Regions from separate parts of the Homo sapiens genome. Here region 2 is linked to region 1. Evidence: fine-mapped expression QTL. Tissue or cell type: whole blood. Region 1 holds a variant in brackets; the other region holds the start of a gene. All regions are shown on one strand. Distances are from middle to middle.

What was found. PIP is the estimated chance that this variant, and not a neighbour inherited with it, causes the effect.
Region 2: it holds the start of LINC00989, and the variant in region 1 is fine-mapped to the expression of LINC00989 in whole blood (INTERVAL, PIP above 0.99).

The regions. Positions count from the first base shown.
Region 1 is chr4:79,451,151-79,454,004 of GRCh38, forward strand. No RefSeq gene overlaps it. Among named protein-coding and RNA genes, the nearest start is that of LINC00989, 40 kb to the right of the region's middle. The variant A/G (reference allele first, on the strand shown) is at 1,528.
Region 2 is chr4:79,491,037-79,493,706 of GRCh38, forward strand. It overlaps LINC00989 (long intergenic non-protein coding RNA 989), which reads left to right and starts at 1,557. Exons shown (of 4, transcript NR_038826.1): 1 at 1,557-1,738; 2 at 2,116-2,549.

The DNA of each region.
Region 1 (2,854 bases):
AAATTTCAATTGACTTGAGCTTAGATTTAAAAAGACTCATCTAATTCATAAGTACTTATGAAATATCACAGTGGAAAAAACATACAAGGTTGCTGTTCACTTGTGGGGCAGGGTACAGAAAATAGCATGTACTTACATGGTTACATAAATGCATAAATAAATAAGAGAATTTCAGATCATTAAAAATAGTAATATCATAAAACAGTGGTAGGCTGGTATCTACTAGAGTACTTTTCTGCCTAGAGGCAGTTAGAGAAACCCTCTCTAAGGAGTGCTGAAATTGTGACCTGAGACTTCAGTGCTGAGAAAGAGCCAACTATATAAAGATGCATAGGAAAAGAGGGCTCCAGTACAAACAGTCCAAGAAAGGAGCAAGTTGACCACTAGATGATGAGAAAGAGTGGTGAAACCACAAGGTTAGAAACGTAGTTCAACTTTTCCCATTTTAAATAAACCTATAGATTTCTCTGAATAGTTTCCTTTGCTGATCAACAGTGGAGCCTGATACATAGCAGGGGTACAATAAGTGCTCATTAAAAAAGAAACAAATCTCAAAAATGAAGAATGATATTATAGTCCTGATATTTTGGATCAACTTTTATTGTTACTATCTGGTCAAGACAAAAATTATGAAAGTCTAATGTTATAATACCATACTGAATTTTCTGAGTTGCGATGTACTGCATAAGAATTCGATAATGAGAAATTTGTCATCATACACAACAATTTTAATAAAATGAAATAATGTATGTAAAAACAGAATCATAGAATCAATAAATTCTAACACAGACATCAGAGATCATCTAAACTCTCTAGCTACTTGAAATGTGATTTAAGGACAAGGAACATCAGCATAACTTTGGAATTTGGTAGAAATGGGGACCTTCAACACCCAACCCAATTTACAAATGAGAATCTGCATTTTAATATGATCCCTCAGTGATCCTTAAGTACATTAAAGTGTGAGTAGCTCTGCTGCACAACGGTGGTTCCCAAATACTAGATTGCAGTCCCTATGAAAAATCATTTGGAGTAATAATCTTTTATTTTTAGATCAGTGGACCTCAACCCCTGAAGAGTAAAATTCTGGAGTGAGGTGTGCATATGAAACAACAACAACAGCAGCAACGACAACAAAATAACAGAAATTATCTAGTTGATTCTGATGCATCCTAATTCTTTCATTTGTAGGGTTGACAGATTTAGCGAATAGTATGCAATATATTTACATTAAAAATTATTCATTATTTATCTGAAATTCAAATTTAACTGGGCATCCTGTAGCTTATTTCACAATTCTATTCATGTGACACAATAATAGAGACTCGATTTAAATCTCTTTTTAAAAATCCATGGCTAAATATATCGGAACTGATTCAAAATGAGTTCTCTTGGTATGAGAGTTATTTGTAAAACGTAAATATATAAAAAGTAAGGTATTGGTACCTGTGTCAATTAAATAATATTCTACTTTTCTTCATTTGTTGATTTTCATATGCAGCTCAATCAGGTTATTGTAGATAGCAC[A/G]TAAAAGAGAAAATTATGTGTCTCTAACTGTAAGAAAACCAAATACAATTTATTATAACACAATTGTTTTCTTCTGAATAAACTAACGTGTCCACTTAAGGAAAAAAAAGTTAAAGGTTTTCTTTTTTTTCACTTTTTATCCTTTAATAATACCTTGTAACGGTGATTTTTTTTTTGTTAACTCTCAACTGTGGACAAATTTGAACATATGAAAAATATTAAAAATCTATATAATAGCTATTTAAATGAAGAGTATCTCTAACTGAAACAGTCTGAAACCTAAAGTCTTCTCATACAATAATATTTGCTATTTTTTAAAAAAATAAAGGGGTTTTCCCTATTAGATAACACATGAACATCATATTTAGAAAACAGAGAAAGAAAAAACTTACCCGTAACTTTATCAACAGAATGCAATCATTCTAATGGTTGAACATATTATTTTCTAAATATTTTCCCTGTAAACACTTTTTTCGTAGTTACAATAATATTGTACCATAGTGTATGATAATAGTGCTTTTCGGCCTCATAAGTACTTCCTTTTTATTACAAATAACACTGTATTTATTGTAGATCTAATGTCTAGTCAAGTAAATACACCTAAGTTTTATTTTTTCCTTTAATTCTTTTGGGTCTGGGACGTATTATACAAATTTAAGCCTTTCATTAATCATGCTATGTCAGACTCTTACAGCAGAATAGAAGAAAATGTGTCCCTTCTACATCTTATCCCTTATAAAACTCTTCAGTCTTAAGAGAACTGAAATAAGTAACCCTTTAGGAAAGGGCAGGGCTTCAGTTTCTGGCCAGTTACCCCAAATTCCTATTATTTGAAAATAACAGAAATGTAAGCTGGTTCTCCCATGCAAGTACTGTGAAAGCTCGGAGAAATTCAACTACAGCTGTCACTCCAATGTAAGACTAAATCTAATTTGTTGGGTGGAAAGAGTTAAATGAACTTTAACTGAAAAGCTCTCGTTCTCTTCCTCTCAGGGTAGAAAATAGCCAAGGGCAACAGCGGATGACTAATGTGTAGAATATTGCAATTAGTATAGCAAGGTACTTACAGGGATCAAATTAAAAAATTCATTAATGTACGCACTTAATTAAGAAACACTTTTCGGTTTACATGATAAATTATGACACCTATTAAATCTTCCAGTACAAGCTGTAATGGCTTCTTTGCTCCTGGGTAGAGAACTATTGCCTTTGAGGTCCTTTGAAACTCCCCAAGGACCAGCAGCATTAGTTACAAGTGTATTAAAAACAATGCTTTCCCCCTGCAAGGTGCAAAAGCATCTTTATTGGAAACTAATTTAAACTTAAG
Region 2 (2,670 bases), 40 kb after region 1:
GTGAATTCTTATCCATTCTGTCATTTTGTATCTTTTAAGTGGAGCATTTAGGCCTTTTACATTCGATGTTATTATTGAGATGTGAGGTACTGTTCTATTCATCCTGCTAGTTGTTGCCTGACTACCTTGTTTTTTTTTTTGTTTGTTTGTTTTTGTTTGTTTTTTATTGCTGGTGAGCTTGTGTGATCATTTGGGGTGTCAATGAATCTTGCTTTGTCATATCATCAGAATTGTTTTTCTGGTTCCTTCTCATTTGGGTAGACTATTTCAGAGGAAAGATCTGGGACTCAAGGGCTGCTAATCTGATTTTTTTTTCCTATGGGGTGATCCCTTGATGTGGTGTTCTTTTTCTTCCCCTAGAAATGGAGCTTCCTGAGAATAAAACTGCAGTGATTGTTATTGTTCTTCTGTGTCTAGTCCCCCAGTGGAGCTACTGGGCTCTGGGCTGGTATTGGGGAGTGTCTGCAAAGATTTCTGTGATGTGATCCTGTGAAGACCTGTCTTCAGGTCTCTCAGCTGTGGATGCCAGTACCTGCCCCAGTGGAGGTAGCAGGGAAGCAAAGTGGACTCTGTGAGAGTGCTGGTTGTAGTTTGTTTAGTGTGCAGATTTTCTCGAATGCTGGTTTGCTAGCAGTGAAGCTGTCATGTGGACAGACTCAGGACCTCTGGTTAGCCAGGGTGTTACAGGTGGTGTTTTCTCCTTTCTTGGAGTAGGATTGTTCTAAGTTGCTGTAATGGCTTGAGTTGGTTGACTTCCAGCCAGGAGGTGGCACTTTTAAGAGAGCATCAGCTGCGGTAGTAGAAGGGGGATACAGGCTTGCCCTAAGTTGGCCAGGGTAAATATTCAGTCGTCTCAGGTAATAGGTGAGGCCATAGAGCTCCCACAAGTTTATATCTTTTGTCTCTGGTTACCAGGAAGGGTAGAGAAAACCATCAGGTGGGGGCAGGGTTAGGCAGGTCTCAGCCTAGACTCTCCTTGGGCTTGCAGTGGCCACTTTGAGGGATATGGGGTGTGTCTCAGGCCAATGGAGTTATGTTCCATGGGAGATTATGGCTGCCTCTGCTGCTTCCTACAGGTTGCCAGGTAAGTGGTGGAAAGCCATCAGTGACAGGCCTTACCCAGCTCCCATGAAACCAGCAAGGCCAGTCTCATTCCTGCCATACTCCCCCAGCAGCCAACAGTGCCCAATTTATACCCAGGCCTCTGGTGCACAGGGCTGAGATCCTGCCCCAGGCTACAAGACTCCCTGCTGAGAGAGCAAGCATGGCTTTCAGTCCTCACCCTTCCCTTCCTGTTGCGGCTTCTGTGCTCCTATCTGTACTTCCCGTTCCCCACACCCCAACCCCCTGGACTCTGCCCAGGAAAATTTGTCGTCTTTGGAAATTATTACAAAGTTCAGCTGGAAGTCTCCTTCTCCCTGTGGACCTTCCCCAATTCCACTGGCTGCCCTCCTCAAGGACCCCTGTGAGATAAATTCAGAAATGGCTATCCTTGGCTTCCCTGGGGAACAAGAGTGCCTGCAGTTCTTTTCCCACTTCTTTTACTTTTCTATTTCACTGGGCTCTCTAAATTCATTTCAGCTCTAGGTAAGGTTAAACTCTTCTCCCGTCTTCTGGATTTTCAGGTTCTCCAGGGCCGATGTATGTTTGGAGATGGATTTCCCCCTCTCACACTTCAGGCACTCAGTTTTTTGGCAGTCTCATGGAGTTTTCAGTGGCAAGCCGCTTATTTCAAATGGTCTGTGAATTCTTTTGGTTTTTCTGATATGTTCCTGGTGTGATTCTTCACCAATTTTATCTCGAATTATATTTTATTCTACATTATGATTGCTATTATTTCCTTATTTTTCTTTGTATTTATGATATATTTCTGCCATTTAAAAAATTTCTTACTACTTCTCTGACATTTGACTTTTGGTCTTTTTCTATTAAGTAAAGATTTTAAAATAATGTTTTAATTTGAGAAACTTTAGTTTTTAATTGAACTACTAAAACGTTTTACACTAATTATATTATTCTTTCTGATCTTGTCAGAGATTCTCTATTTTGCTCACCTATTTCTTTTCTAGCTGATGTTTATTATATTGACTATATTATTATTATTTTTTCTTTTAGGGATTTGGAAAGGATTCCGTGATGGTTAATATTGAGTGTCAACTTGATTGGATTGAAGGATGCAAAGTATTGTTCCTGGGTGTGTCTGTGAGGGTGTCACCAAAGGAGATGAACATTTGAATCAGTGAGCTGGGAGACACAAACCCATACTCAATCTTGGGGGACACCATCTAATCAGCTGCCAGTGCAACTAGGATAAAATCAGGCAGAGAAATTTGGAAAGACTAGACTGGCTGAGTCTTCTGGCCTTCATCTTTCTCCCATGCTAGATGCTTCCTGACCTCGAATATCAGACTCCAAGTTCTTTAGCTTTTGGACTCTTGGACCTTTGGCCACAGACGGAAGGCTGCACTTTTGAAGTTTTGGGACTTGGACTGGCTTCCTTGCTCCTCAGCTTACAGATGGCCTATTGTGGGACTTCACCTTGTGATTGTGTAAGTCAATACTCCTTAATAAACTCTGCTTTATATATATATCTATCCTATTAGTCCTGTCCCTCTAGAGAACCCTGACTAATACAGATACACAGAAAGTTCAATTTTCTAAATTTTAAGC